Regions from separate parts of the Homo sapiens genome. Here regions 2, 3, 4, 5 and 6 are each reported to be linked to region 1. Evidence: microRNA targets listed by miRTarBase, many of them from high-throughput screens and not tested one by one. Region 1 holds a microRNA gene; each other region holds the end of a gene's coding sequence.
What was found. Region 1 holds the annotated microRNA hsa-miR-181a-5p (AACAUUCAACGCUGUCGGUGAGU, at 2,342-2,364, opposite strand). A microRNA usually pairs through its seed, bases 2 to 8, with sites in the 3' UTR of a target mRNA and lowers its output. Matches are read on the target gene's strand: a 7mer-m8 pairs with bases 2 to 8, a 7mer-A1 pairs with bases 2 to 7 and ends in A, and an 8mer does both.

Region 2: the mRNA of CST5 is a reported target of hsa-miR-181a-5p. The part of its 3' UTR that is shown has no 7-base or 8-base seed match.
Region 3: miRTarBase lists CHD9 as a target of hsa-miR-181a-5p. Seed matches in the 3' UTR shown: 7mer-m8 at 3,912-3,918.
Region 4: the mRNA of OTUD1 is a reported target of hsa-miR-181a-5p. Seed matches in the 3' UTR shown: 7mer-m8 at 1,037-1,043.
Region 5: miRTarBase lists HERC3 as a target of hsa-miR-181a-5p. Seed matches in the 3' UTR shown: 7mer-m8 at 4,337-4,343.
Region 6: the mRNA of FAM13A is a reported target of hsa-miR-181a-5p. Seed matches in the 3' UTR shown: 7mer-A1 at 3,045-3,051 and 7mer-m8 at 2,923-2,929.

The regions. Positions count from the first base shown.
Region 1 is chr1:198,856,767-198,861,842 of GRCh38, forward strand. MIR181A1 (microRNA 181a-1) reads right to left here and starts at 2,387; the gene lies at 2,278-2,387. The region is part of intron 2 of MIR181A1HG (MIR181A1 host gene); the gene reads right to left. MIR181B1 (microRNA 181b-1) reads right to left here and starts at 2,216; the gene lies at 2,107-2,216.
Region 2 is chr20:23,871,454-23,876,529 of GRCh38, forward strand. CST5 (cystatin D) reads right to left here. Exons shown (of 3, transcript NM_001900.5): 3 at 4,481-4,818. The coding sequence ends at 4,735. Among named protein-coding and RNA genes, the nearest start is that of CST5, 5.8 kb to the right of the region's middle.
Region 3 is chr16:53,324,159-53,329,234 of GRCh38, reverse strand. CHD9 (chromodomain helicase DNA binding protein 9) reads right to left here. Exons shown (of 39, transcript NM_001308319.2): 39 at 1,738-5,076. The coding sequence ends at 4,340. Among named protein-coding and RNA genes, the nearest start is that of RBL2, 110 kb to the left of the region's middle.
Region 4 is chr10:23,440,009-23,445,084 of GRCh38, forward strand. It overlaps OTUD1 (OTU deubiquitinase 1), which reads left to right. Exons shown (of 1, transcript NM_001145373.3): 1 at 1-2,369. The coding sequence ends at 895. Among named protein-coding and RNA genes, the nearest start is that of OTUD1, 3.5 kb to the left of the region's middle. RefSeq lists a silencer at 1-285.
Region 5 is chr4:88,706,502-88,711,577 of GRCh38, reverse strand. It overlaps HERC3 (HECT and RLD domain containing E3 ubiquitin protein ligase 3), which reads right to left. Exons shown (of 26, transcript NM_014606.3): 26 at 3,039-4,826. The coding sequence ends at 4,618. FAM13A-AS1 (FAM13A antisense RNA 1) reads right to left here and starts at 1,789. Exons shown (of 5, transcript NR_002806.2): 1 at 1,313-1,789.
Region 6 is chr4:88,724,008-88,729,083 of GRCh38, forward strand. It overlaps FAM13A (family with sequence similarity 13 member A), which reads right to left. Exons shown (of 24, transcript NM_014883.4): 24 at 1,953-4,652. The coding sequence ends at 4,526. It overlaps FAM13A-AS1 (FAM13A antisense RNA 1), which reads left to right. Exons shown (of 5, transcript NR_002806.2): 5 at 3,828-5,076. Among named protein-coding and RNA genes, the nearest start is that of FAM13A-AS1, 17 kb to the left of the region's middle.

The sequences.
Region 1 (5,076 bases):
TGTGTAAGCTGGAGATAAAGACTTGGGTATCTGCAGCATCTGAGCAGATGTAAACATCATTCACGTGCCTGAGATTCCTTCAAAGATTGTGAGACAAGAGAAGAGAAAAAAAGCCATAAAGTTAAGAATGGGTCTCAGAAGGATACTGGCATTGGGAGTTCAAGCAGATGAAGAGCTTCTTAAAAATAAATAAATAAATAGGACATCACTGTAATAAAGAGAGAAATCCAAATGAGAGTAGGATCACAAAAGTGAATGGGGACTGGAGTTTAGGAAGAAGTGGTCAGCTGTGTCAGGCATCAAGGGGAGTTCGAGTAGGACAACTGGCAGAAAAGTTTGATTTGTATTTGGCAATATGGAGCTCACTGGTGATTTGGGGAAAAGCAGTGTCATTAGAATGATGTTATGCACAAGTGGGAGAGAGAAATGGTAGAAGATGCCAAATTACATATAGTTGAGGTGAAATGGGAAGTAAACAAATATAGACAGTGCTGCAGGCTACTATGTACTATTTCTAAAATCTTAGCTTTTAAAAAGAAGAAAAGAAGTGGGGTAAGTAACTTGAGGATAAAGCAAGTATAGAGAAGTTTTTCTCAAATTTCTTTTGTTTTCTATTTGAGAAGAGAGAAAACTGAACCTTGTTACATGTGAAATGGAGCCAGATGGTGAGAGAGGAGGGGGATATCACAGGGGAAGAGATGTCCCAAGCAAGGCAGGAGGCTCACGTGAGACAACTCAGGGCAGAATCCTACGCATTCATAGGCTATAAACAAGGAAGTGGAGGGAATAATCACATGGACTCAAGCTTCTCAATGAAAAACAGAAGTCAGTTCATCTGTTGAGAGTGGAATCGTGGAAAGGAGCAGTTGAGGAAAGAGGTAAACATTTAGGCTAAACATGAGGGAGTGGAGTAGAAGAAATGCTGGGTCAGAGTTGAGGGACTGAGGCACTTGGAGGCCCCTGAGTATGTGTATTAATGTGTCCATATGATGATGTGATTTTATTTTTCAGCAACACTGATATTGAAAGGACAGTTGCCTTGGAGATAAGAGAATGAGAAACTAGAATGGTAAGAAGTGATAGACAGAGTGGGATATTAGATATCGAATGTGGTAAAATATTTTAAGGTTATGATGAGGTCAAGAGCCGGGTCCCAGCAATGGGTTTCTGTAATGGGAGTTAAAGGCAAATGGGATTTAAAAGATCAAGGAAAAGAAAGGATAATTTATTTGACCATTAAAAAAAAATGAACATTGAAGCCATCCAGGTACTCCAAACATAGACACTTGAGAAAGCATTTTATTTTGCTATATAATTATTATCATTACAAATGGTAAACTTAAAACTGCTGTGATCAAATTTAATGACAGATGTCCTATATAAAAATGCAGAGGCAAACCACTTAAGAAAAACCATGATATGCATAGGCTTTTACTTGCAAAGTCAGATGAGTAAACATGAGGCAATTAATGGGCCATGACTGTAAGTCTAACCACGCAGTTCATGCACATAGAAAGTGGGTAAAGTTTTAAAGTGGAAATTGAATTGGGAAAATCAATCTACTATATGACTGTCATGAGTGTTCTGATAGTTATATAGTTATGTATATATTATTTTCTTCGTATTTAGCATGTTACATAGCAAGAGGCAGAATTATATGAGCAAATCCTCACCCAGAGAAGCAGAAAGCTAAAATTATCTGGTGTTTCTATCCCACTTTGACCAGAACATCTAACAAAAGTTGTAAAGAACACATATTTGTAAGTGTGTTATTGTCAATGGCATGGGTGCTGAGGTCCTACTTTATGTCTTTTTTTCACTCACACTACAACAGTAGGAAGGTGAGCTAACCTAGATGATGATACTGTACGTTTGATGGACAAAATAGTTTTGCCTTTTCTAAAACATGCTCTGTTTATAGCATACAAAAGATAGAGAAGCATTATTCTTGTTTAAACCAGAGTCTTTTTCATTGAAATCTCATCACATGATATAAATTGAATAAATAAACCAGAAGATGCTGACGAATTGGAAAACTTAAAGAACAATAGTACTATTTTGAACACATCTTTCAAAGATGGAATATCTGTTGATTGTGACAGCAAAAAGCGGGGCCACAGTTGCATTCATTGTTCAGTGAGCTTGTCCACACAGTTCAACCCACCGACAGCAATGAATGTTGATTGTGACCTTTTAAAAAATAATCTCTGCACAGGGAAGAGAAAGTCCTGGTGTGTCCACCTTTGGTTTCCTGTCTTCAGCGAATTCTGAGCACCATGGAGTAGATGATGGTTAGCCATAGGGTACAATCAACGGTCGATGGTTTTGATTTTAATTCCAAACTCACCGACAGCGTTGAATGTTCACTGAAGCAACCTCAAAACTCAGAATTCTACTCACTTTACAGTATCTGTAAGTATCTGAAGGGGATGGGAGACAGAAACAACAGTACCTTTAGTCATATATTTTATGCATTTTTATGCCATTTCAAAAGACTACAAAAGAAGACAAATAAGAAGCATGATTCTTCCAACAAAGAGTTTGGCAAACCTCCACATCACATTGTATGAGAGAAAAGGATCGGTTTCATTAAGCAAAAACATGGCCGATATTGGGCTAGTTCCAGAGATGGAATTATCTCACTGTTAAAGACAGGGACAATTTGTTATTCAAAGTACTTTGTGGTATAAAATCCAAACAATATCTTATAATTTAAATATTGTTACGCTTATAGTAAGCAAGCATTATGTATATAGCTTATACAGAAATTAAACAGAATTACCTTAGATTTCCTCAAATTGGCATTGATGATATCATTTATATTTACATTATATATTTACTATATTTTATTCTAAAATAAGGTTTTAAAATTAGTATAACTTCCTAAGAACAATCTTATTTAGAAAATGCTGAACAAATTATAAGTGAAGAAACCAGCTCAATACATTTTTCTTAGTTTATGGCACAAAGAGTTCATGAATACAGTGAAAGGTAAATACAATCTATGTATGCTACAAAACCGTTCATTTCCTATTATTTTAAATAACATCTAACATCTAACATCTCTTTATGGGTAGATGGGTGAGGGATTCTTTTCATAGTCTTATTTTCTAAGACTGTTTTATCATTAATGCTTATTTTAAAATTATTATGAACTCTACTGAATTTATTTTTAGAGCCATTTTCAATAATTTTCTACCATCAATTAAAACAAAAGTCACCTTGGATGTATCTAAACCAGAATAGAAAGTCATTATTTCACACATTTAAGTTGCATCTAATATGGTTATAGAGTAATTATCTGTAGGAGGGACAACCCACAATAATTTGGAATGCTACTTTGAAGGTGATAATGGTCTATTCAAGTCAAGGCAATTACTCTCGAAATGTTAGTGAAATATGTATCCCAAATTTTTACACATTCTTACATTTCAGTCACTTAGAATTATTTTAAAGCCAATAATTGTTTAACCTTTTAGACAAACTATTTACATGAAAACTTCAACAGATTTTTTTTGAGAGAAACAGGGACTAGAGATCAACTGGAAGTAAATTTTAAAGTGACAAATAGGCACAGAATATGAAACAGTGATGTATCTGAATTTTGCATTGTTTAATTCTTTTGAAAGAAGCAAATTTCTCCCACAGAATAAAACCCTAGAAGAATGCTTTATCAGTAGGCATTTCTGTGTTGCTGCTGGAAAGAATATTATCATGAGACTGAGGATTCATTTGTTTGCATTATCAATTACGACTGAAAGCATATCACTCCTGTTCTGTTGCCTGCCTATTGTGGTATTAGTGTCAGGTCAATATACAACTGTTTTCAATCATGCCTATTCATCTCTTGCTACATCTGCTAACGTTTGTATAATAGGGATGTTGTGATAAAAGACTCCATGCTCTGTATTTTCCCTTAACACAAAATGCATTTGGCCTACCAGTAAGCAAAGCTCTAGGTCAGTTACAAATAATTAAAAGGCATAACTATGTTATCTTTTGTTTTCCAAAATATTCTCCTAGAAGTCTTTGGAAGAATACAATTAACTTAATCCTAAAGTTGTTACATTCTTAGAATAAAAATCTTAACTATAATTGATTTAACATTAAAATTCTTAAAAATCTTATAATGATTCACTTGAAACAATAGAAGTTACATTAAATGTCTTGTTATTTACACATAAAATAGCAATGATAAATAAAGTGATTAATTATTTTTTCTTTCCTTGGGCTAATCATAGTCATAGTTTGTTAAAGATAAAACCTCATATCTTAACAGTTTAAATCCTCCACAATGGAAAATAGGATCTCTGTGTTCTTGCTTCCAATTAATCTAATGTCAGAGAAGATAGTAAACTTTAGGCTCTATATTCTAAATTATTTCGAGCAATACAGAAAAATCGTTCTACTTGTTGGTGCAATTTAGTTTTCTGCTCACTTATATGGTCTTGCAATTACTGTCATGTACCTTCCAATCCTATATCTTTTCCATCTTTATTTTCACAACTTAATCCTTAGTTATAAATCATTTATCTTTAAAATATTAAGATGCAATGGTACTGAGATTTCACATTTTCTGGCAATTTTTTAGAACACATTGTTCATAATTCCAGAATTCCAAGTTGGTGGTAGCAATATGCATTCTTGCATAGTTTTCCTTGAATGAAAAAAAGTCACAAGCAATAGGTCATTAATGCATAAATACTCTCTTATCCCCCTCTTCCTAATTTTGGAGGGCTGTGTGGGTAGGATAAAACCAATCTAATTTGCATCAAAGCCAAATTTATTGTAGCTTTCATTTCTCATCCCTAGGCTTGTGGGAACATTAAGTATTTCAGTTTTGCTTAAGGTTAGTAGGTCATAAATAAACCAAAGCAATTTTTTTGCTTTGTGCAAGAGGGTCACGAAATACATGAAATACCACTTTTAAACAAAGCAAACCCTAACATGAATTGACAGAGGAACATAAAAAAGTAGTGCAATGTGCCTCAGTAAAAAGCCATAGGGATTTGGGATGCTGAAGTTGTCTGTTTTAGGAATAGATTATATATCTTGTTTGATGATCTGTATTTAATT
Region 2 (5,076 bases), not on the chromosome of region 1:
TTTCCCCAGGAGCTCACAGTGTAGCTGAGAGAGGATCTATTCAGAAATACTCAGTGTCATGAAAAACAAGGAAAAAATGTATTGAATTCTAAATGACTGTTGCAACTCAGGGGGCAGGGGAAACCCCTGATGCTGAATATCAACTCCTGATTCACTCATAATTAATGTGCTATTAAGCATATGCAGGCATATCAACCACACCAATAGACATTCAGCCATAGCATTTGTTAGTTTTTAAAATGCAGACATAGGGAGGGTACAATGAAAAACAACCCATATCATCACCCAAACACCCATGGATGACATTTAAAATAATTAGAATAATTAGAACAACGTGACATTGTAATAACATTCAAATGAAACAGAAAAATGCAAAATTCTTCTCTTCTTTCTTTTTCTTCTCCCTTCTCATCCTCTCTCCCTTTCTCTCTCTTTCCCTCAGATGTGTTTCTGTGTATACATATGTGTATATGTCTGTGTATATGTCTATATACACACATACACACATGTGTTTATTTTTGTTTTTGGAAAGAGCTTTGTATTAACATACCATATAGATCTTGTTTTCTATAAAATAATATATTCAAAGTGTATTAAAATTTTTTTTCATTTTAACACATATATTGCTAATTCTTCTTAACGATGGTTTCATCATGTGCATGCATAATTTATTTATTCCCTCTGCAGTCATGTCATCATTTTGATCATGCTGAAGTTTGTGCTATTACCAGGATGCTGCCATCCTATCCACAGGTTTCACTGAGTGCTGGTGACACAATGGATGATGTGAATTCCTAACAGGGATTGGTGTAGGGGGTGGGCATATGACCCAGCCCTAGCCAATGAGACTGCAGGGGTGGTGAGCTAGGGGGTGCATAGGAGGAGCCTCCTCACATTCAGGAAGGAGGTGTGGAACAGAGGCTCTTCCCAGGGCTCTTTCTGCCTCTGGATGTTGGTGTTGATGATGTGATGTCTGGAGCTGTTGCAACCACCTTGCTACCAGCTTGAGGCTGAAGCTTCAAGAACAGGAAGGTAAGGCTGAGAGAATCCCAAGGAAGCAGAGCATATGCTGGGAGTTCTGTTCCTGAAGCCTGCCTCACCCAGGGGCTTCTTATCATGAGAGTAGAACATTCCCTTTGCATTCAAGACATTTTTAATTAGGGACTTAGTTTACATGTGGCTGAAAGCTTCTCAGCAGGTCCCAAGGCCTCTGCAGTTTCTTCTGCATGGTTTCTCCTTCCCTCACCTCTTCTTCAAGTCTCCTTCTACTTTTGTGGCTGGTGGATTTGTCTCCTCCCTCACGTCCTCCTTTGCCCATGCACTATGCAAGAATACTGGAGTCTGCCCATGTGTGTGTGAGTGGCACAGACAGGAGGGGCGGGCCTGACGTCCCTCCCCGATTATTCTGTTGGCTCCCAGCTGCAGGCAACACAGATGTAAAACTGTGACCAACAGGTGAGATGACTTGAAGAGATACTTTTTCCAGGACAAACTCCTGCACATTCAATGAGCTAATCAATATAGCACATCATGATACATTTGCACAATTTTGAAGCTCACTACACAACAGTGACAGTTTAAAAATGCTGTGTTAGTGAGCATTGTTAATACAAAGAGTCTTTAAGATCATCAATCTTATGTCTAGAAAATTTAGAAAGCACTAAAATCTTAGAGTTCACAAATGAGAGGAAACTGCAAGAGGCTTTTACGAATTTGTCAACAATCAGGAAAGGTTGCAGGATATTACCAATATGAGTTTTGAAGCAGAAAAAGGATGTTATGTACCATTAAGTTCACAGATCATCAAACAGTTAGTGGAAAGACTGGTTTATCTTTCTGCTATATTTATAAAAGTTCTGGTACAAATTCAATGTCTTATGATGAGGCAAATAGTGATTCATTAGCTGAATATGGAAACATAGGCAGAAAATATTACAGAGTTGTGTCAACTAGTTAATTAAACAAAAACATTATATGAGACAGTAAAGATCATGTGGATTAAGGGAGGGCAAATCTGCCCTTTCATCTGCAGGGTGGATAGATGGACTGATGTGGTCAAAGCCAGTGGCATCATGAACGGGAAACAATGTTTCTCTCAAGCTGCAGCTTTGAAATGTCAAGCAGCTTCTTCCTTGGCTGACAACTGCTTTCTGACTCAATGGAAGACCTTGTTCTCTAGCGTCAGGGCTGTCAGAAACTTTGCTTATGAGTAAGAAGAACATCCCACTGCCTGGAGGATCTAGGTCCACCTTTACACAGAAGCACAGAGCTACAGAGAAGGGGTTTCTGGACAGAACGTTCCACATTTGCCTGAACCTTATGGGTTCTGAGGAGATAGGAGGAGCTGAGGAGATAGGAGGAGCTGAGTACAATTTGCAGCCCAGACCTGACCCTGGCTCCTTTACACAGAAGCCTGCCATGCTCTGAGTGCATCAATACACCTTCAAAATCCCTTCCTCCAATCCTGTGATAACCTTTTTTCCTTTGTTTGTTGAATCATGTGAGGATCCTTGTGTGACTTTATTCCCTTATTGCAACAACCCAATACTGAGTGTGTTGGCTACAGTACTGACTTGGTGGCTGATTATTTTCTGGATTTTGTGGGTGTCTGTTATTTTCTGGAGTTTGTGGCTGTTTGCAGTATATCTCAGTGTTTTAAAAAGTGAGTATTTTGCCATAATTTATTTTCTTTTCCCAAATAAACATTAACTTTTGTGCTTTCTTTTGTATTGCTAATATTGCTCTATTTTTCATACATAAAGCCCCCATATTGTATGAGCCTCAGGCCCTGCAGCACCTGGTCTGCCTGTGATCATGAAGAGAGTCCACCTGCCCAAGGAAAGACTGTGCCGTCTCATGCTTCCCAGGCCTCCGATGCACTCATCCCTCCTTCCAGAGTGATTTCTCTATGCTGGGTGAGGGGTTTCCAACCTCTGCAGTTTCCATCTTTTACCTCTGATCTGGTGCATGATTTTTTCTAAAGGAACTCTTAGAAGACACTTAACATGACCTGATCAGGAACCTTCTTTAGCTTCTTCCAAGGACACAGCTCAGTGCCCAGAAGATGGACCTGTTCACTCTCAGCTTCCCCGCATCCTGCTCTGTTCCAAGGGAGCAGACACACAGGGAAAAGTCGGGGGAGTCCTGTGCAGAACCCCGACGTCACACCATCTTCCCCAAGGAAGATAGAATTGTGTCAGAAAGGGACTGTTTTTCAAAAAATCAGCTGTTCATTGTGTGCCTGGATGGTGGTCCCTTTGGTCAATAAACCCTTCATCCACATGGAAAATTATGAGCACTTCCGTGCAAGAAAGACTTTGCCCCCAACCACAACATCTGTGCACCTGCTGCTCTGCCCTCAGCCGCTCTCTCCCAGTAGAAGCCTGAATCACTAAGTGCACCCTCCACTGAGAGGATGAGGCCCAGATTTGACTCCCCCGCTCATGGCTGCCTGGGCGCTGCTACACTTCCCACATCACAGACTCAGTTAAATCCCATGGGGGTGGAGAGGAAATGGAAGCAGATGCTGCTCACTCTCCCTGCCAGACCATTCTCCTCCTGGCTTCCTAGGTGCAGCACGGTGGGTGCTGGCCTCAGGGCTGTTTCAGCAGCTTCCTCTTTGTCATTTCCCTCTCAGTGTTCATGGCAGCCACCCTTGGTCAATGCAGCTCTGAGTGAGGAAGACATTTCAGAGCCTTGGGCCAGAGGCACCTGTCCTGAGGGCTGCACCCCCTTCTCTTTGAACTAAAATAGCAAAGAGAAGGACCGTGTGGGCTTGGGGCCATGTGACTTAGGAGTGTAGCCTCCTGCTTGAGGCACAAATATCTACTATTCTATGAATCATGATGACACTAAGTTTTTTTTATTAATTGGAACATCATCCTTGGAAAAAAACAGTCCACTTCATGCCAGTCCCATTTGTGTTTTAACTTCTCTAACCCTAATATAAAGTTTGACATGAGGACTTTTTAAAACTTCAAGTCCAGAGAATGGGCCGGTGGGTGTGAATTGACAAAACCTCCCACCCTGGGGCACACCTTCCCAGGATAGATGACAGCAGGCACTGTTTTCTCTGTGAGATCTTGCCCATCTTTGGTCTGGCTGGCATTTCTCCCAATCAGTTACACATACACATACACACTTTTGGACTTGTTTCCATGTAAGGGCCTAAAGTCTCTTGTGGAAAGAAGCAGACATCGATCGCTATTTATTTAGTGTCTAGGGGATTTGATGAGAGCAGCTCAGTCCCTGGAGTCTGCTCAACTCTGCAAGCACAGATGGAATCCACGGCCTGGCGAGCTCCACTGAGGCCTGGCCCCTGCCTGTGGACACAGCCAGCCCCCTCCTCCTGGTCTGACCAGGAGCTCAGACCAAACCAGCAGCCCAACTTCTGGGGCCAGCAGAACAAGGAGGCTTCATAAAGGAACTGCAGAAACCCTGCCTGTGTGTACATCCCCAAACAGCCAAGAACTCAGAGGGAGGCAATGCTACTGTTTAATTGCAGGAGGTGGGAGAGTGTGCACTGCACACTGGGGCTATGAGAAGCAAGAAGGAAGGAGCAAGGGCAGAGCCTCCTGCTGAGCAACAAAGGCCTCCTGCCACCTTCTGTGTCTGTCTCCTGGTGCAGGCGCATGAGGAGACCTCCCCCAGGGTGGGGGCCACCAGTCCAGGGGTGGGAGCACTACAGGGGGTGGGAGTAGGAGGTGGTCAGTGTGACAGGCCTTGCACAGACCCCTAGACTTTCCGGCACTTGTAGTTCAGAATGGAAATTTTATCCTCCCAGGGAACTTCATTGATCTGGAAAGAGCAGAACTCTTCCTGTGAAAAGAAAGAGATGGAGAAAATGACTGTGGGTTACAGTTAAAGCCAAAGATGCCCAGGAATGGGACATCAGAATGGGGGTGAAAATGGTTGGAGATGAGACACTGCCCCCTGACCCCAACCTACCCCTGCCGAGTTCCAGGGCACTGAGCCCAACTGGGCAGTGACTGTTCCATTGCCCCTCCCAAGGCTCCAAGTCACCAGGTGACATTGGGCCTTCACCCCAGCCTGCAGGATTCCTGTCCCAGCGCAGCC
Region 3 (5,076 bases), not on the chromosome of region 1:
GAAATTATGTACCATAAAACACTGAGTTAATATGAAAAGCTATCAGTTTCCTAGGGCTGCCATGACAAATTACCACAAACTAGGTGACTTAAAACAATGGAAATTTATTCTCTTACAGTTCAGGTTAGAAACCCCAAATCAAGGTGTTGGCAAGGTTGGTTCTTTCCGGAAGCTATGAAGGAGAATGCTTGTTACTTCTCTCCTAGCTTCTGGTGGTTGCTGGCAATCCTTGGTGTTCCCTAGTTGTAGGAACATCCCTCCGGTCTCCTTTATCACAAAACAGCCTTCCCAGTGTTTCTGAGTATCTTCTGCTCTTCTTCTAAGGACACTAGTCATTGGATTTAGGGCCCACCCTAATCCGGCATGACTACAACTAATTACATTTGCCAAGACCCGATTTCCAAAATAAGGCCACATTCTGAGGTTTTAGGTTGACATCAGTTTCTGAATGACACTACTCAACCCACTACATGTAAATAACATAGATATACAAAAGATTGAATATATTACTGACAGTGTTTATCTCTGGGTAGTTTTAGTTTATGAATGATTTAAATATTTTTTTGCTTTTCTGAATTTTAAAATAAATAGCTTATATAGAGATTAAGTTCTAAGTTTATTGTATAAAGTGAATATTAGGTGTAGTCAAAAATCATTTCTGGCTGGGTGTGGTGGCTCACACCTGTAATCCCAGCACTTTGGGAGGCCGAGATGGGTAGACTGCTTGAGCCCAGGAGTTTGAGATCAGCCTGGGCAACACGGCAAAACCCCATCTCTACAAAAAATACAAAAATTAGCTCGTTGTGGTGATGCATGCTGTAGTCTCAGCTACTCAGGAGGCTGAGGAGGGAGGATTGCTTGAGCCCAACAGGTCAAGGATGCAGTGGGCTGTGATCGCACCACTGCACTCCACCCTAGGGGAGGCAGAGCAAGACCTTGTCTTTATAAAAAAAAAAAAAATCACTCTTTTCTCTCACAGAGCTCACAAATTACAGAATACATCATTTTATACCTCATATCTCTTCTCAAAAATGTCCAACATAGGCAATTCTTCCTCCAACACTGGAACAGACTACTGTTCCTCTGGGTGAGTACTAGATGAAGCAGTTGGTTTGTGTTTATATGTTATGTTGTACAAAAATGAAAAAAAGGTTTTCTAAACATGAAAGTGTAGTTGAATGTGTTCAAGTTAAATGAGTATGAGACTCCACTGTTTTAGTTGTGTAATTAGAGGAAAAACTATTTTCTTCAATGTTTACGAAGAACACTACCCATGGCAATGAGTTAGGAAACACTCTTAAGACTAAGGGAAAAAAATAATTATTGATTTCCAAAATGGACTTCTTAAAGAGGTGAGGAATATCTCTGAGTATTTCTGAGTTTTTTAAAAGTCCAAAAACTTAAGAAAATAATACTTAATGTTCAGCATGAAGTTGAGATTGGGCTGCAAAATTGGGGTTTAACAATTTGAATGCCCAAGAAGCAGCTTTTGCTTTTTTTGCAGTCACCAATATCCACAATGAACAATATTAATAAAATTAAATCAAAATGAAAAATTGACAGCATTTAAGATACTGTGGATAAAATTATAGCCAATTTTTGTTTTAAAAATTCTTCCACGGTATATTTTCCTTTTAAAGATTTACAACTATGGTGTCTCTCATAACTGGAATAAGATAAATTCTATATAAAATTCAATTTTAAAAAGTATTCTCATGTACAGAGGCTGACATCATGGGTAGTCAAAGAATATGTTTAATAAAAAATAATTAAACTTCCATTTGCTCTATAGAACATCATAGAAAGTAATTTAATAAATTACAAATGACTTTTTAAGACGTTTGCTCAACTACAGAAAGCAAATTCAGACTACACAAAACACAACTGGTAAATATTGCAAATGTCCAAAAGAAAGATTGGACTAAGACTTGAATCATAAAACCTGAAACAAGGGCTATAAATACAAGGCAATAACAGCTATAATTCTTTTAGTAACTACCAACACATACTTGGATATTCTTTCAACTGCAACTTTAGTATTATGTAATTCTACTGATTTTTTTTTCCTTATAACCCTTAACTTTACACAACCATATTTGCATGTGTTTTCTTAGCTGATAGCTGGACAACTTTTCCCCAATGAATATTAAATAGAAGTGTCTTGAAACCTAAGAGAATGTTTAAAGTTATGTTAGACTTAATGCTTTGAAAACTGTAATTGCCTTATTATATAGAAAGAGAATCACTAGGATGTTAACCAAATTTATTTGACCATAATTAGGAAAATACTTTCTCTCATAAATTTGATATAAATTAGATTTTAGTGACAAGATCTACAGATTTTTTTTCCTTTTTTTTTTTTTTAATTGGCGAAAGGAAGGAATAAAGATCATGTGGGTAGAATTAGAGGGAGGAAGGGAAATGTGGTTGGTGTTGAAATACTCCACCGGTAAACTAAGATAACTGTGTTTGAAACTTTGGCTATCTCATAGGTGTATTCTAGTTAAACAAAAGTGCAATACTGCAAAGGGAAGATACTAAATATGTAATATATCATTTTCATGATGAAGAATTACTACCCACTTCTCCTGGATGGGCATTATAGAGACTATTGCTAAGACATTGCATAAAGGACTATCAATTCAAAGTACTATTTTGGGAAAATACAAAATCAATACAATCCCAATGGAACTTATATAATTTTGTAAATACATATAACACTGTCTCTCTAATAAGGGGTTATTTTACATACAGAAACATAATTTACTGGTAAAGGTCTTGGAAAACCTGATACAATTGACTAACTCATGACAAAGCAACAGTTTTATCAAAACATACTGAAAGTATTTTTTCTGTAGGAGAGAACTGGGACACTTTTTCCCCCTAAATTTATGCCCTTGCAGACTTTACTACTAACTTATTTGAGTACCAGAAAAATGCTAACATATATCTCTCCTTAGAATGTCAATATTTTTATGTCCAATTCAGTACTAATTGTTTTAAATATATATAAAGGTGAACCTGGACCTCTACCTTGTCAGAATAATAGCAGCTTTAGCAGGAGAAATTGTATCACAAATCAAATATCAGACAAATTTTACATGGTAAAGGAGTCTATGAAATTGAACAGAAGCCTCAGGCTTCACTTTTGTGGTTTACAGGTATAACTTGTACATCTTTTTGAGATTATTCAAAGTGCATTTTCAAAACGGGCAACTCAGTATATTTAATATAAACTGATAACCCAACACTGATTCTGGGCAACATTTAGTCTGCTTACACCTAGAAACTCAAAATGAATTTAGACTATCTGCATATTACTTTACCACTATTATCTGTTAATTCTGGAATATTTCCATGACATAAAACACAAATAGAAATCTACACAAAGAAAGCAAACAAACAATTTCTTTTACATGAAGTATGCTGTGTTGAAAGTTCTTTTCAGTGGCATTTCATGAGTTTGCCTTTTCTGAACCCTGGAAACAGACATTACTCATCTGAGACATGATTATTTCTAATAGGAGGCCAAACTTTGAAAAGTTAAAACTAAGTATGTCTATAGGGTGCCAAAGTCACATGACACATGATTATTTTATGACTTAATTTTACTGATATCTGAATTAAGCTCAGCAAAAAGCAAGTCATATTTCTTGCCAGATTGACATGATATATAGGATGTGTTTAAAAAACCCCTGAAAACAAGTATAGAATTAGAAACGAATGTAAACTTCCTAAACTAACTCAGCTGAGGTAACAGGTAGCCAGTTAAATTGGCTGATTGGGAAACTTATTTCTTCTTTAAAACATACTTGTACCTGAATTGGAAACATCAGCAGTGCATCACAACACTAGAGCATTTTCATGTAATTAAAGCAATGGATGGTGATGTAGATTCTACAGCTTTCATGACATTCATTAGCTGCCCAAATTATTGCTGAGTTTTGATCTGTAAATTATAGGTGTCAAGGAGGCTGTAAAACTATATTCAAATTAAATCAGTAATATGCATAAAGTATTCTGTGTTCACTGCAAATATATTAAATATACAACTCTTATTGAGCATAATTTTCATAAAATTAACCCCCAACAAAATTATAATGCCTTTTGTTGTAATTTTACACCTTTATGTATTTGATAGTACATACGAGTTCAGAAACTTATGAATCTTAAGAAATATTACATGCAAAAAGTCTCTGAAAGCAGTTTGCACTTCTAAACAAATAACTGAAATGTTCGGTCAGTAAGTTATTGATGCACTCAACACTGGGGTATTTACAATTAATTATTAAAGAAAAAATCCAAAATCAGTTCATATTTTAAGTGCAGAGTCTGGGAATCAGTCTTCATTACTAGAATCTGAATCCTCAGATGACGACGATGTACTATCAGATCCAGATGAAGCATCAGCTTTCTCTGAACCCTCATCTGTGCTGTTTTCATTGAGAGGACTTGGTTCAGTTCCTCCTTTGTCTTCCTGATCTTTAATTCTGGAATCTTCTTCTTTTACTTCTACAGACTTAGACGAGCCTAAGTCACTGTTTTTGTTTTGTACATCAAAAGTATTGGACTGGGACAAAGTTGGAATATGAAGATTAAGGCCTGGAGTGAGAAGCATCCCTGGATAAAGTATATTAGATAGTAATAGTGGGTTAAGAGCTAATGGGTTGGCAGCTGCAGCTGTATTTAATGCAGCAGTAGAGGATGTGGAAGGAGAACTTGACACAGAGTTTTCTCCACCATTCTCTGAACTTTGGCTCTCTGTCCTTTCTGTTTTTCCTTCTGACTCCTTAGAGTCACTTCCCTTTTTGTCTTCTGTCCCAGATTCCGTAGGCTTTGTCAGGAGTCCTCCCATGCCCAACAGATTTGGTAATCCAGCCATTCCTGACAGCAGCATGGGGAACATAGCAGCCATGTTTTTAGCTTCTCCTCCAGAAGGAAGGCCGGTAGGCATTCCCATCAACCCAGCAGTTACTTGCAGTGACTGCAAGTTTTGTAGGTTTTGTTGTAAGGCCTGAAGAGTTGTGAGATCCACACCTGGAAGTAGTCCATTGGCTAACAAAGGATTGCCTGAAA
Region 4 (5,076 bases), not on the chromosome of region 1:
GACACGGGAGGGGCCCGATCGGAACTTCCGACTGAGCGAGCACCGCCAGGCCCTGGCCGCCGCCAAGCACCGAGGCCCCGCGGCGACCCCGGGGAGCCCCGATCCCGGCCCCGGTCCGTGGGGCGAAGAGCACTTGGCGGAGAGGGGCCCCAGGGGCTGGGAGAGGGGCGGCGATCGCTGCGACGCGCCCGGTGGGGACGCGGCGCGGAGGCCCGACCCAGAGGCCGAGGCACCCCCCGCCGGGAGCATCGAGGCCGCCCCGAGTAGTGCGGCGGAGCCGGTGATCGTCTCCAGGTCGGATCCCAGAGACGAGAAGCTGGCCCTATACCTGGCCGAGGTGGAGAAGCAGGACAAGTATCTGCGGCAGAGGAATAAGTACCGATTCCACATCATTCCAGACGGCAACTGCCTCTACCGAGCTGTCAGCAAGACGGTGTATGGGGACCAGAGCCTGCACCGGGAGTTGAGGGAGCAGACGGTGCACTACATCGCCGACCATCTCGACCACTTCAGCCCCCTGATTGAGGGCGACGTGGGGGAGTTTATCATCGCTGCTGCCCAAGACGGGGCATGGGCCGGGTACCCGGAGTTGCTGGCCATGGGGCAGATGCTGAATGTGAATATCCATTTAACTACTGGAGGGAGGCTGGAGAGTCCCACGGTGTCTACCATGATTCATTATTTGGGCCCAGAGGATTCCCTGAGGCCTAGTATTTGGCTCAGTTGGCTCAGTAACGGACACTATGATGCTGTATTTGATCACTCCTATCCTAACCCAGAGTACGACAACTGGTGCAAACAAACTCAAGTGCAAAGGAAACGCGACGAAGAACTTGCCAAATCTATGGCCATATCCTTGTCTAAAATGTATATTGAACAAAATGCATGCTCTTGAAATGTCTCAAAACCTTACACCCTGGGAATAATTGCATATATAACTTGTGTTTGGAGAATCACATGAACTTTAATCAGGGTAATAGCACTTTCAAACTTGCTAGTAGATTTTACTGTAGGTGTAATGCCTTAATCATCTTTTTGAATGTTTTCTCAGAGCTGGAGGTTGCTGGGCACCTAAATGATGTTTCATGATAGCTTTGGGTGATTTTACTGCTATTTATAATTTGCTGTATAAAGTGAGCATTACTTAATTTGCAAGCTGATTTCTCACAGTGTAAATTTGTTCATTCCTGGTAGTCTATTTTCTATAAAAATGTATTTTTGCACAACATTTTTAAAAACTGGTGTACCTTCATCTATGACGTGTTCCATTTTGACAAACAGCTTTCAGGCGTAAATCCAGAGAAGTGCTTTATATGAAATGTATTATTTTGAACAGAGTTTGTGATTTGGTAGTTATTTTATGTTGTTGAAATTTGAATTTCACAATTCTTAGATAATTATTTCAAATGGATATTGATGCATTCTTGTTACCAGATGTTTGGCCCATTCCATTTTGATGAAACAGAGCTGTTGTTTTGGAAGTCATTATTTTTCTAGAAATGGCGAATCTTTTAAAGAAAATTACTTAATGGAAGGTTGTGGGAAGGTGTTTTTTTGTGTTTTTTTTTTGGTTTTTGTTTTGTTTTTCCTCTTTTAAGGGATAGTAGCAGGTCTTACTTGAATGAAAGTCTGATATTTGCTGATGGCAGAATGATTATTCTGTACCCTGGTTGATGTGTAGAGTAGATTGTCTGGTGCTCTCAGTTGTTTTTATTTACATTTGTCACGTTGTTGTAAGAGAATGTTAACATGGTATAAAACTCTGTGACAAGATAAGCCTCCTGCTTTATATAACTTCTTGAATCCAGCTAAGAGATTTATAAACTAATGGCATAAATGTCTGGAGCCAACCTTGGCAGTTATAGCAGGAGAACACTGTCTTAATATTTCTTTACATTCTTTCAAAAGGCAAAATAGGATTGCCCTGTATTGATGTAGAAATGTCTGTAAACAGAGCTTGTATGGTTTGCTGGGTCAAACAATGTTTCCAACTTAAAATCAATCTCATTGCCACTTTAACTACTTTTAGTCATATTTATTAAGTAATGCAGTTTGTACTTTTTTTATTTTGTAACATTTTGTGATTTTTTTGTACAAAACTGTATTTGTACAATAGAGCAATTCCCAGCTGATGGAATGAATGAATAAAATGCAAAATTATACTTTTACAATGCCTTTTTGGATAGAGTGGTTTTTAAATTGTGATGTTTGTAGGAAACTTTCTTGCATGTATGCATGTACACAATTTTTTTTTTCCATAAAGATGCCACAGCAATAGAGAGGTTTCCTAAATTATCACATGAAGAGGATAGGCTAATCATGAGTAATTTCAAAGGATAAGTCTGAATAAAATATAATTTAAAAGTGGAGTAATCCAAGAAATTGCTCTCATTATTTCTAATTATAATTTCTGTCTACAGTTATAGCTGTACCTATTGGCTAATGAAAAAGGAAGTGCAAGTTTTGTGTCAGCCAGCAGAATGTCTAATTAAATGTCATACTTTTGTATTCCACTCACTCTCAGTATAGAGTTTAACGTTTTAGAGAGTAACCAAAGAGATGCCCTAATTTTTGTCTAGTCTGGCCTCTTGAGACCACGGGAATCTGTTTTAAGATGTTGAAAAGTGCATGCTATAGTTTGAATATATGTGTCCCACCACCCCAAATTCATGTGTTCGTCCCCATTATGGTGGTATTAAGAGGTTGGGCTTTTGGGGAAGTGATTTAAGGCATGAGCGCTCTGTCTTCATGAATGAATTAGTTGCCTTTTATAAAAAGGTCTGGAAGCAACTAGCTTAGGCCCATTTTGCTGTTCTGTTGTTCTGCCACAGGAGGACACCTAGATGGTGTCATCTGTGAGGAAGGGGCCTCCGCCTGATGTGGAACCTGCGAGCACCTTGATCTTGGGCTTCCCAGCCAACAGACTGTGAGAAATACAAATTTCTGTTCTTTATAAATTATAGGTATTTTGTTGCAGTAGCACAAATGGACTAAGTTGGTGCACCTGTGTGCATAATGTTGGGGTATGTGTAATGCATAAGAAAAGCAGCTATTTTGGATATTTTACTTTTCAGTTATTTAGACATCACAGTCATAGACACAACTGAACTTGATTGAGTTCATTGGTTAACCACATTCTTGGAAGGATGCCGTTGAATATCAAGGAAAGAATTTGTCAACGGTTTAAATGTTTACTAATCACAGATCTCTGGATTTTTGTGTAGGTAAGTTTTGCTTCATGGCTTCAGTAAGTAATTTGGGAAGAAAGAAATTCTATTATTTGAATTACCTGGCTACCCCTTTTCTCCACTTTATTTAGAGCTGTATAACATTTGGAGATGCTTAAAATTTTATACAAGTATGAGTAGAACACACAAGAATTCCTAAAAAGCCTTCTGTAAGCCTATTACTGTTTTAGGTAGCTTACTCTGTGTTCTGTTTCATTTTCAAATTAGGATTCCAAGTCCTGATTTCTTTTCTTTTTTCTTACGTTTTTATTGAGACAGGGTCTCCCTCTGTCACCTAGGCTAGAGTGCAATGGCACAGTCATGGCTCACTGCAGCCTCAACCTCAGAGCTCAAGTGATTCTCCCGAATACCTCAGCCTCCTAAGTAACTGGGGCTACAACGGTCGTCCAGCATCACACCCAGCTAATTTTTAAAAAAATTTTTTAGTAGAGATGTAGTCTCACTATGTTGCCTAGGCTGGTCTTAAATTCCTGAGCTTAAGTGATCCTCCTGCCTCAGCCTCCCAAGGTGGTGGGATTACAGGCATAAGTCACCCTGCCCAGTCCTGTTTTTAAATTTAATTTTAACATTTTGTTTATTATTTTTGAGACAGGGTGTTGTCGTGTCCCCCAGGCTGGAGTGCAGTGGCACAATCATGGCTTACTGCAGCCTCTACCTCCTGGGCTCAAGTTAGCCTCTCACCTTGGCTGCTGAGTAGCTGGGACTATAAGCATGTACCACCATGCTCAGCTAATTTTTTATTATTCATAGAGGTCGGTGGGGCGGGGGTTCGCCCTGTGTTGCCCAGGCTGGTCTTGAACTCCTGGCCTCAGGCAATCCTCCCACCTCAGCCTCCCAAAGTGCTGGGATTACAGGTGTGAATCACACACTCAGCCTTGAAAAAGAAAATCTGGAGATAATTTCATTACTTTGTTCAAGTTTATCTTATGTGCTTTTCCTAAAAAAAAAGTTATACAATTTTTTTCCAAGTTTTGCATTTTGAGAATCATTAGCACTTTACCATGACATTTAGTGCTCATGTGGAAGAAAGGCATTAGGGAAGAAAAATAGATTGTAATCCTTTGGACGTTTGATAATTTGATATGTAGGTAAATGTACTGGATAAATTCAAGTATGTAGCATGTTCACATTAAATAGTTATTTGTTACATCCTAAGTTCAGATGTCATTTTTTTGTACATCCCTAGAATGTCTATCTCAAAGAGGCACTGAGAAACTAGATGACATTTAATTCAGTTTGATTTCCCAAATTTACTAAGCTCAATAGGCACATTCCCTGTTGAATCCCTGGGTTCAAACCCAAGTACCTAGCAGAGCGAGTGCTCAGTAAATTGCTTTTTTCTTTTTTTTTTTTTAGACAGAGTCTTGCTTTGTCGCCCAACCTGGAGTGCAATTGTGTGGTCTTGGCTCAGTGCAACCTCCACCTCCCGGGTTCAAGCAGTTCTCCTGCCTCAGCCTCCCGAGTAGCTGGGATTACAGGTGCCTGCCACCATGCCCAAGTAATTTTTTGTATTTTTATTTATTATTTATTTATTTATTTATTTGAGATGGAGTCTCGCTCTCACCCAGGCTGGAGTGCAGTGGCATGATCTTGGCTCACTGCAACCTCCGCCTCCCGAGTTCAAGTGATTCTCCTGCCTCAGCCTCCTGAATAGCTGAGACTACACGTGCGTGCCACCACGCCCAGCTAATTTTTTTTTTGTATTTTTAGTACAGATGGGGTTTCACCATGTCAGTCAGGATGGTCTCGATACCCTGACCTCGTGATCCGCCTGCCTTGGCCTCCCAAAGTGCTGGGATTACAGACGTGAGCCACTGTGACTGGCCTT
Region 5 (5,076 bases), not on the chromosome of region 1:
AAGTATTCAAAAATAAAAAGCTTATTAATAAAAGAAAAAAAAAAATCTTCTGAAAAAAAGAATTCTACAGAGAAGGATCCCCTAAAGGGTATGAAGTCCATCCCTCTCTCAGTGTTTTACAAAGGGGCCTGTCTTAGTCCAGTCAAGCCACTATAACAAAATGCCAAACACTAGGTAATTTACAACAGAAAATCATTTTTCACAGTTCTGGAGGCTGGGAAATCCAAGATCAAAGCACTGGTGGTGTCTGGCGAGGGCCTACTTTCTCACAGATTGTGCCTTCTTGCTGTGTCCTCACATGGTAGGGAAGGCAAGGCACCTCTCTGGGTTCTCTTTTATAAGGGAACTAATACCACTCATGAGGGTTCTGCCCTTATGATATAATCACCTCCCAAAGACCTCACCTCCTAATACCATCATCTTGGGGGCTAGGTTTCAACACATAAATTTTAAGAGGGAAACAAACATTCAGACCATAGCAGTGCCCACTGGCATCTTGGGCAGGATAAAGAGGAATTGTTCTATGCAATGCAAGGCATTAAGCATACCTGGTTCCTGGCTACTAACTACCAACAGAGACCTCCAGCTTCACTTGAGACCCACTGCAAATGACATGAGAACTGCACTGATCACTACTGAATTGCACACTGGCAGCAAAACAAAATTCAGTGTGATGTCTTTGCAGATACGTGGAACTCAGTGCGATGTCTTTGCAGATACGTGGAACTCGGTGCGATGTCTTTGCAGATATGTGGTCAAAGAAGTTACCTGCCACATTACAACATTCCTTTTTATTTGGCTACTGAGCAGCCTTAATCCAATTTGTTGCCCATCTCTAGCAGCTGGGCATAACACAGATTAATGGTCAAGTCCAGGTCCCACTATTTTGTGATAATGAGCAACTATTTTCTCTAATTAATTCCTTCATGTGAAAAACTGGGATAATGGTAATTCTAAGTACTGAGAGCTTATTATGTGCTAAGCGCTATTCTATATGCTTTCCATTAATTCATTTAATCCTCACAACAACTCCATGAGGTAGGCACTATTTCTGTTCTCATTTTGAAGAGGAAGAAAATGAGACATAGGTTAAGAAACCTGCCCAAGGTCAAACAGCTAGTAAATAGCAGAGCCAGGAGGACCCTGGTAATGGCAATTAAACTAGTTAGTGCATAGCAAATGTTGGTGCAGGATCTCATATGGGTCTGGTACACTGCACACAATTAATACAGGTTAGTTATTATTAGGTCGAAACCTTAGTATTAATATCTACTTCTGTGGGTTAATCTTAGTTAAAACTTGATTTTCTTACCTCTGAGGCAAATAAGCCCAAACAGTTGTTCTCTCTGATTCAACATCAAATTATGACTCAAGTTCCTCCTAACACTTCAAGAAGGTTTTTCACTCTGTTACTGTAATTTTTGCAAGTCTGGTCTCATAAGGATTGGTCAGTTGTTTTCTGTAAAGGGCTAGATAATATGTTAGGCATTGTAGGCCATCCAGTCTCTGTCATGTATCCTTCCAGTTTTAAAGTTTTCAACCCTTTTAAAATGTAAAAACCATTTTAGCCCATGGGCCATAGTTTGCCAACCCCTGCTCTCTGGGATTATTAATAAGAGTACCATATAAAACATCAAGAGACTTTCACATGGAGTAGATGGAACTATCAGAATTTGCTAATTGCCTCATTACACCGTCATTGATCCCCACCCACCACAATAAAGTTGCCAGATAATTTCATTAAAGTGGTAAATGACTAAAACAATGAAGAAGCATCTGAAAGTTTTCAGGGGAGGGAAGGTTGGTAGGTGGGTAGGCAAATCCAGAAATGCCTATGCAGAAGATTTAAGTCTTCTAAAGCATTGGTAATGAAGGGGAAAAGGAAACTATCTTAGAAAAATCATAGTGTTTTAGAAGCAGCATAAGATATCATTCATGCAACAAATCTTTAGAAATATGTATTGGGTATCTCTATGTTCAGGCACTCTCTCAGTAATGGAATTATAAAATTTTAGAGCTCAAAGTAACCTTAGAAATCATCTGATCCAATCTCATTTCATGGATGAGAATTCTGAGGCCTCAAAGTTAGTTAAAATAATTTGGCAATTTCTGTGCAAAATTAAATGTAGTGGGGTTTGTTTTTAACTCCTCAAATGTAGCACTTATGTAGATTATTAAATGTTTGTTGAATGGAGCTTATTAATGGAAAGCTCCTATTCTCTTTACCACCTTTAAACCACCTTTTTAATCTGGCAAAACAATACATTTTACTTGCTTTACCAATTTACTTAAAATCCTTTCTTTTTTTTTTTTTTTTGCTGTGTCTCACAAACTTTTGGTGTGCTTAAATGGCCTAACAATCACCAATCACTAAATGAACCAGTCTCTGATCCACCTTTAGTGCCTCCTTCTCCCTGCAGGCTCCTACCACCTCCACTCACTCCCCCTACCTCTCCTCAGATACTCTTCTCTAGTTCTGCTGCTGCCACTGTCACTGCTGTCTCAGCTCCTGTCTTTCTGCTTCAGTCCTTCCCACCTCAATACCTCCAGATTTAGACCATCCACATTTTCCTTCTTAAGACCCGGCTCAGGTCTTATCACCCTCAAGTTCTGAACATTGAAACAAATCCTACTTGGCTACTACTAAAGTTCCAGTGTTAGGCTAGTTCCTCAGCCCCAAATCTACCTTCTTTCTCCCAAGTCTTACTTACCATTATTTACTATTATTTGCCTATTTCCTCTGATGTTCCCTTCAAACTGTTCTTGGCTCTTGCCTAAATATGCCCCAATGTTTGAGCCTTTGCTAAAGCATCCCTCTCCATGAGAAACACCTTTTCGTCCATCCCAACCTTCAAAAACTTCATTCTTCCTTAATGCCATCTGCTCCTTGCCCCTGCTTTCTTCTCCATTTCTGCAGCACTTGGCTCTACTTTCTTATGCAGGAATCAAATCTGACCTTCTATTAGATTATCTGAGTATACGACCTAATGCTTCTACTAAAAGCAAGCTATCCATTCTGCAAGTACAATAAGAAATAGTTTTAAGTTAAAACACCAAATTTATTGCATAATATTGAACTATATGCACACACATAGAAAATAAACATTTCATATAACTGTATATATATTTTTAATCCTGTATTTATAAAGACTGAAAAACTACCAATTTAGCAATTGGAATAAGTTTTAAAAACAAAAAGAAAAAGCAAAAATCTACAATCCTTCATCAAGATTTGATGCTTTATCACAGTTCATAAATACTTCATTTTATATAAATAAGTCTTTTCTCTAGTTACTAGGAATTTAAAATTAGACTTACATGGATTCTTTAATCATGTAGAATTTTCTTACTCCATGATGAGGAAGGTTGAGCATGTCATTATTTTTAAAATACATATATTTGATTTAAACACAATCCCCCCTAAAATCCCACTGTAAACAAACATTTCGAATGTGATAAAGTTTCATAATAAAGAACGTCCTTAAATCTTAGCAATTAGGGAAGAGGAAAAAAAATCTGAGTAAAAATTTTGCAATTTAAATAAAAATTGAAAAAAAGGCTGCATGCATCCACTAGAAGGAGAGGAGAGGAAGGGAGCACTGAGTCAAGTAACAGAGAATGGGATAAAATAAAGAAGAAACGAAAGGAAAATCAGGGAGGACACAGGGTACGAAAAGGAGAAAATAAGGGAAGGGAGGAAGGAGAAAATGGTAGAGGACATAAGGTGATAGAAAAAGGGAAAGTAAATTTATTATTTCTACTTTTCTTGGACAATATAGAGACTCAAAATAGTTAATGCAACTTGCTCCAAAAGCGAGAGTGCAAGAGGTGGTGGGTCTATCAATTAACCTTATTGTCAAAGGGACAAGGATGAGCAAGAAAAAATTAGGCTCAGCTGCAACGAATGCTAAGCTGCTCTGCACATCTTTTAAAAGGTCTAGGAAATAGGCACAGCCATGGGAAAGTTGCTATTCCCTCAAGAACTTTTTAAAAGCAAGATATGTTTATATAGGCTCCCATAAATTCTTAGGAGTTCTGCCAAAATAATGGACCCAGACTCAGCTTTTTGGAATTGGGAGTTTCTGAAGCAGTCCTTTCCTCCTTTGGGTTAAAGGAGGGCTGCAACAAGCCAGAGGCATTTCCAAGTGTACAGAGGAAGGTGATGTTCTCGCATGCGCAGATAAAAAAGGACAGGTCAGTCTAAATCATTCTTATAGAGGAATGAGAAGTTAAGAGAAGGACAAGGAAGCACTGTGAGAAAACATCAGGGCTGAGAGAGACATTTGGGAAATTAAAGTTTAAAAATCCACTGCCATTTCATCCAGCAGAGTGCAACACATTCACAAGTGCAAGGAATACTGGGTAGTTTGGTTTAAAACAAAAACAAAAACACCTCCCATACAAGGGCCAATTTTTCACCCCATCCCCAACCTCTAATTTTTCAAAAAGGTTGTTTACTGCTATACAATCCCAGAAACACATCAACCAGGCTCAGTATTTAAAAGTCCCAACCCACTTAGACAATAAAAAAATAGAAATCACTCCCCATGATTTTCTGTATAGGCCTCAATGTGGACACTGAGGAACGAAGGGAAATACTGGACAAGCTGAGAAGCCTCAGGCCAAACTAAACCCTTCATAGTTGTCAAGGGCCTGGGTCAGCCGGGCACTCAGAATCTCTTTGCTGCTGTACTTGGGGAGGTCAAGAAGGTTGTAGCAAGTGTGGGCCACCGGCAAGTACTCCTCCCCGCTGGCTGTGGACTGGATGACAATCTGCAGACTGGCCATGCCGTAGATGGGAATCCGATCGCTGCCTGTCAGGAACACTGGGGAGAACGAGAAATGGCATTAGCAGCTAAGCAAACGGAAAATGGATCTCAGAGATCCTTCTGGCAACAGGAGAGGAAGGCATGACACCCTGTGGCTTGCATGAGAAGTACAATTACATTTATGTGCCAATATGCATCCTGTGGAATGAAAATTAGATGCCGTTAAGAAAAAAAAAAGGCCTCAATCAAATGTACACCCTCACAAATGTTAGATTTCACAAAATCAAAGAGGGAAGGAATTGCTGTC
Region 6 (5,076 bases), not on the chromosome of region 1:
AATGTATTTATTCATGATGGCCTCATTGGCTTGGGAGATGTACTTAATTTTTAAAAATTTGCTTTAATTCCCTCATTTCTGCACTTCTCCAGTGCTTTCTATGAATTTTTTAAAGGCAACTGAGCCATGAGAGCACAAGCCCATTTTTCTAGCTGCAAAACGGACATGCCTGAAGTGTATGCTCAGCTCGCATCACCTTCCAGTGCCCTGCCTGGAGCTAGAACAACAAAACTTAATCCTCAGGAGGCTTCTGAGGGGCTCCAGGGAGTCACAGGATTACTTAAAGAAGGGAAAGGTCAGACCCTGATCCTGATGCCACTGTCAAAAATTCTAGCACTTTCATAGTTTAAAATATTTTACATTTATACAAAATAGTCATGTATAAAATGTTTTTTGTTCAGTTTACATTTTTAAAAAGGACAATGGTAATTTCAAATGCCTTCTGCTTACATGTCATGTAAATATTGTTAGGAGCCCATATTTTTTACAAAAACTATTATTTGTGGAGATTTTCATGACTGTATAGGTGTTTTCAGTTGGAGGATTTGCCAAACCTGTGTTTTGAGGCACACACGTGATCTCTGCTTGGGAAAGTGGCCAGTGCCACTGTGCAGTGCCCAGCATTTATACGTGACTCTGTTTGGTGTGTGCTGTGTTGGTCACCACTTAAAGTAGAGCCAGTGTGCACAATTTGAATATATAAAAATTTGAAAATATGTTTAGCCAGTCTACTCTTTAGTATATATTTTGAGTGAGTGTCAAGTGGAAAAAAAACAGTAAAAGGAAATTAATGAAGGAAAGGAAAGCACTTTCTGAGTTCTGTCAAACACAAGAGCTTCAGAGGAAACAGTGCTTCAAGACTGTAGTATAGTTTGTCCCTCCTCATTGATTTAACTAAGTGGATACTGAAAAAATATCACAGAGGCATTGATCTTGGTGCAGAAACCACCTCTCCCTGACTAGGGGAAAATAAGCTAGCAAGCAGTGTGTCAGGAAGACCCCTCTTGAAAGCAAAACAGAATTTAGACTACAGCTAGCTTTCACAAAGCTGTTAGCAGTTTATGGTGTTCAACTATAAATAAATATACCACCAAAAGCATAAGGTGTTACTCTTAAGAAAATGGCATGTTTATCAGATTAAAAAGCTCTAAAACCAAAAATTATCCAAAAAGTTAAACTCTGTGATTAGTTCTGGACACAGGGCCCAATTCTGTCGTCTCTTGAGAACTAGGCAACCCCTGGGCAGAACCAGCTTGATTAGCACCATGGCCATCCCTTTATGATGATAACAAACCTAAATATTCACCTTATAAGGAATTCTAAGCTCAACCACATTTACAAATGCTCAGCCCTCGGGGTTCCAAGACTGCTGGTCTTGGGATACCTTAGTGCGGCATTTATGACACAACACAGCTTTGAGGCATTTGTCCTTGGCTGGAAATGTCACACCTGGGAGCAGGCACACCCTGCAAGAGGCTATTCCGCTGCCACCCAAGCAATGAATTATGAGACAAAGCAAAAATTACACTGATGTTACAGAGACATCACTGATCCCTGCAATGAGTAATAATCTTCTTTTGACTTTGAACTGGTAGGCAAATGGAAGAAATCTTAACAGCTGACAACATCCTAGCTGGTAATTAAAAAAATAATTTTTAGTACTCCAGTTTGAAATTTGGTCTTTCACGGAAATTTTCCCTCATTTGGGAGGTCACCAAAATTGTGCTAGCTTTTTAAATTTTTATTATTTTTTTTAAAGCAGCACAGGACAAACTTCTACCATCTTGAAAAACTTCTAAGCTGTCCCTTATCCTAAATCTTGCACCTACAAGTCTTAGAAAGTGAATCTGAACTAAATGATTCAAAGATGAAACATAATGATATCATACTTAATATAAACATCTATTTCAACGTTTACGCCAGACTGAACACAATAAAAGTACTTATGAAAATTATAAGTCTGCACTCTTTAATTCTTAAGTTTACTTACACTTATGAAATAACTCTTGACATTTATTTTGTTGGCATGTGCTAATTAATAAACACATATTCCCAACACAGCAAAGGAAAAATCCCAGTCCAGAGCATTTTGTCTTTGTGAAGCCAATTAATTAAGACACCGCCTCTAGTGCCTTGAGATTCTGGGCTGCAGAAATGGTTGCTGGGGAACACATCTCCCTCGGCAGAGCCAGAAACCACTGACTGACTGACTAACAAACATTTCTTCAAATAAGATCTAGTGTGAAAAGGGCTTCCTCTCATTTCTTCTGGGCTCCATTCCATGAAGAATATAAGTTAGTTAGTTAGTTAGTGGAAATTACAAAGGAAAACACAACATCTCATACACAATTTATTTTATATAACTTACTTGGTGTTTTCTTTTATTGAATCATACAAATTCAAATGGGGATTCCTGAATAAATCTTTAGTTAATTTACCTTTGGCAGAAACAACAGATTCCAAAACAATTAGTAGCATCTCATTTATTTGTAGCTTAAAAAAAAATTCTGTAGCGTATTTTTCCAAAAACATAGTCTTAAACAAATGTGCTTTAAAAGCTAACTGGTAATGATCTGATTAATATCATAGCTTATTTAAGAGAGCTATTAAAGGACAGACTAGACATGTATTTTTAAAAAAACACAATTTTTGGTCATGTGAATGATTCATGTTCAGATTTCAAAAATAGGAAACATCCTAAAGTGCATCATTTTATTTATAATCTCACTCCTTGAAATTATAGCAATCTGCAATGTAAACAGTAGAGCAAAGAATTCCAAACTATATTTTTATGTACATTTAAACCTGTAGGATTATGTACCGTCTTTGTGTATGGATTAAAACCAGGGCACTTCCAACACATAGCTCAAGCTTCCATACGATTAAGAGCAAACTTAAAGGCATTCTTTTTCCCCATCCTTAACATTCAGCTGACAGAAGAGAGCTGCTACCTCACTTCAGCAATGGAAAATGTTGCTGTAAATCCCATTGGACCAGCCAGTTTCTCACGACCCTTTAAAACTGAAAACGGGTCAGTATAGTTTTACATTCTTTTTCTTTTCCTTAAAACTGTGCCCTTTCAGAAGGCAACTTTCAAAACATACGAGGGTGCCTCTGCTGTGTGTTCATACTGTAACACGTCGTCTAAGGCAGAGCTCCTGAAGCACCTTCTCTGGTCAGCCGTGGCAGGCGAGCAGATGCCTGGGCTCGGCCTCGCAAAGCACAAAGGTGGACACAGAACCCACTGTCCTTGGCGCAGGAGTTAAAAAAGTAACAGCAAATCATGAGGTGACATCAGGCACACTGAAGAGATGGAGGATTTGGTGTCTTACATTTCCTGGTCCCTCCAAAATGTCTAATATAGACAGTTTTGTGACAAAGTCTTTGAAAAAAATTATAATTGGCCACACAGCATGACTTCTTTTTTTTCTTTTTATACATGATCTCGAAAATAGTGTGATTTAGATTCTGCCTTGGGCTGAGCTCTGAGGGCTACATTTACCTGTCAGTTTGGGGATTTTAGTGCAGATTTTTTTTAAAAAAATTAAACTCTGGTAAGTACTCAGGAGGCTGAGAACACAGGCCCCTTCTCTCCCCGATCCTCTGTATGCAGGCTGACTTAAGCCCCTTTATGTTTGGCTAGTGCCACAACAAAACAGCCCCAAACAGATTGCCATGAGCATGCTAGCCTGGCTTGGTGTTTGACGATAAAATCAGACTGGTAAGTGCAGTCAGTGTTCAGGAAAGAATCTCCAGGCTCTTCTCCCATGACCTGGTTTTAAAATCAGCATTCATACAGCTGCTTACCATCTCTCTGTCCTCTGCAGATGACCCGGTCCTAGGCAGGGACCAAAATTCCTTGTCAGCTGAGGAAGTCCTGAAGAAACATCCTGAAGATGATGACTGCACTGCCATCGTGGGCAGATGCAGCTTCCATCTACCTGAGGGCTGAAGGGGAAAACCTTTCACACACGTGAGGAAGGCGCAGCTCTGTGGAAAGGTCACTAGAATGGCAGCGGCAGCAAATAGGGCTCCAATGCACGTTTGCAGTTAACTGGGTCCAAGGAGAGCATGGCCCTCCACAGCAAGTTTGCTCTATAGAATAAAGTCCTGAGCTTGTTTTTATCACAGTTAGACAGAGAATGGTCTCTTGTTTCTCAGTTATCCAGGGAAGAACAGTGTATATTCTCTGTAGATGAGTGTTGTCTAATGTAGTGATTAATCTCTGCTAGTGTTAGGAAAGCTCCACTACTGTGTGTGTGTGTGCGTGCATGCGCGTGCGCATGTGCACATACTGCAGTCTTGACTTTCCAATTACAAAATGCCTAAGTCAGGTCACATTGTCTTCTTCCAGCCAGTTTCTAAGGCAGGCAATGGAAACAGGAGCCGATGCCAAATGGTCTAGAGGCAGAAGGGCTGCATGCTTTGCAGGGCCAGCCCCAAGGCTGCCTTCCAGAGCTGCACTTTCTCTGGGGACAGTAAACTCTCACCGCAGCTGCCAGCCCCCTGTGCTTGGCCATGCCCCTCACATGGACTTGGAATCAGTGTCTCTCTTGCTGATGAGCACCTCCAGGAGCCTCAGTTTCGCCTTTATGTGCTTATATTCACTGTATTCTTCAGCCATAGGAGTGCGGTCTTCCTTCTGGACATTTCTAATGCAAATAAAGGAAAAAGGGGTCTGAGGATCATTTTCTGTCTTTGCTAGATACTATTCATCGGGCAAATTATCATTGTTTAGAAACTTTGCAGTTTATCAACTTGTAGAATCAGTGTTGCCGAGTGGCCCTTGGTCTCAAGACTGGGGCTGGATTTAGACAAGTAATGAAAATGTTTCACCCAGAAGGCAACATGCAACTGAGTTTTTATATAGTTAATCTGGCATCCTGTATGATAAGAAGGCTAAGAAATGCAGAAATTCTCTCTGCTAAGTATGAATTCACATTGAGCTCTCATACACCAAAATCTTTTATTCATACTTAATGTTTTCTCATTCTTATATATTTCATCTCGTGAAATTTTAAATTTTTAATTAGCAACTGGTCCACAACTTAGTTTTTTTTTTTTTTTTTTTTTCCA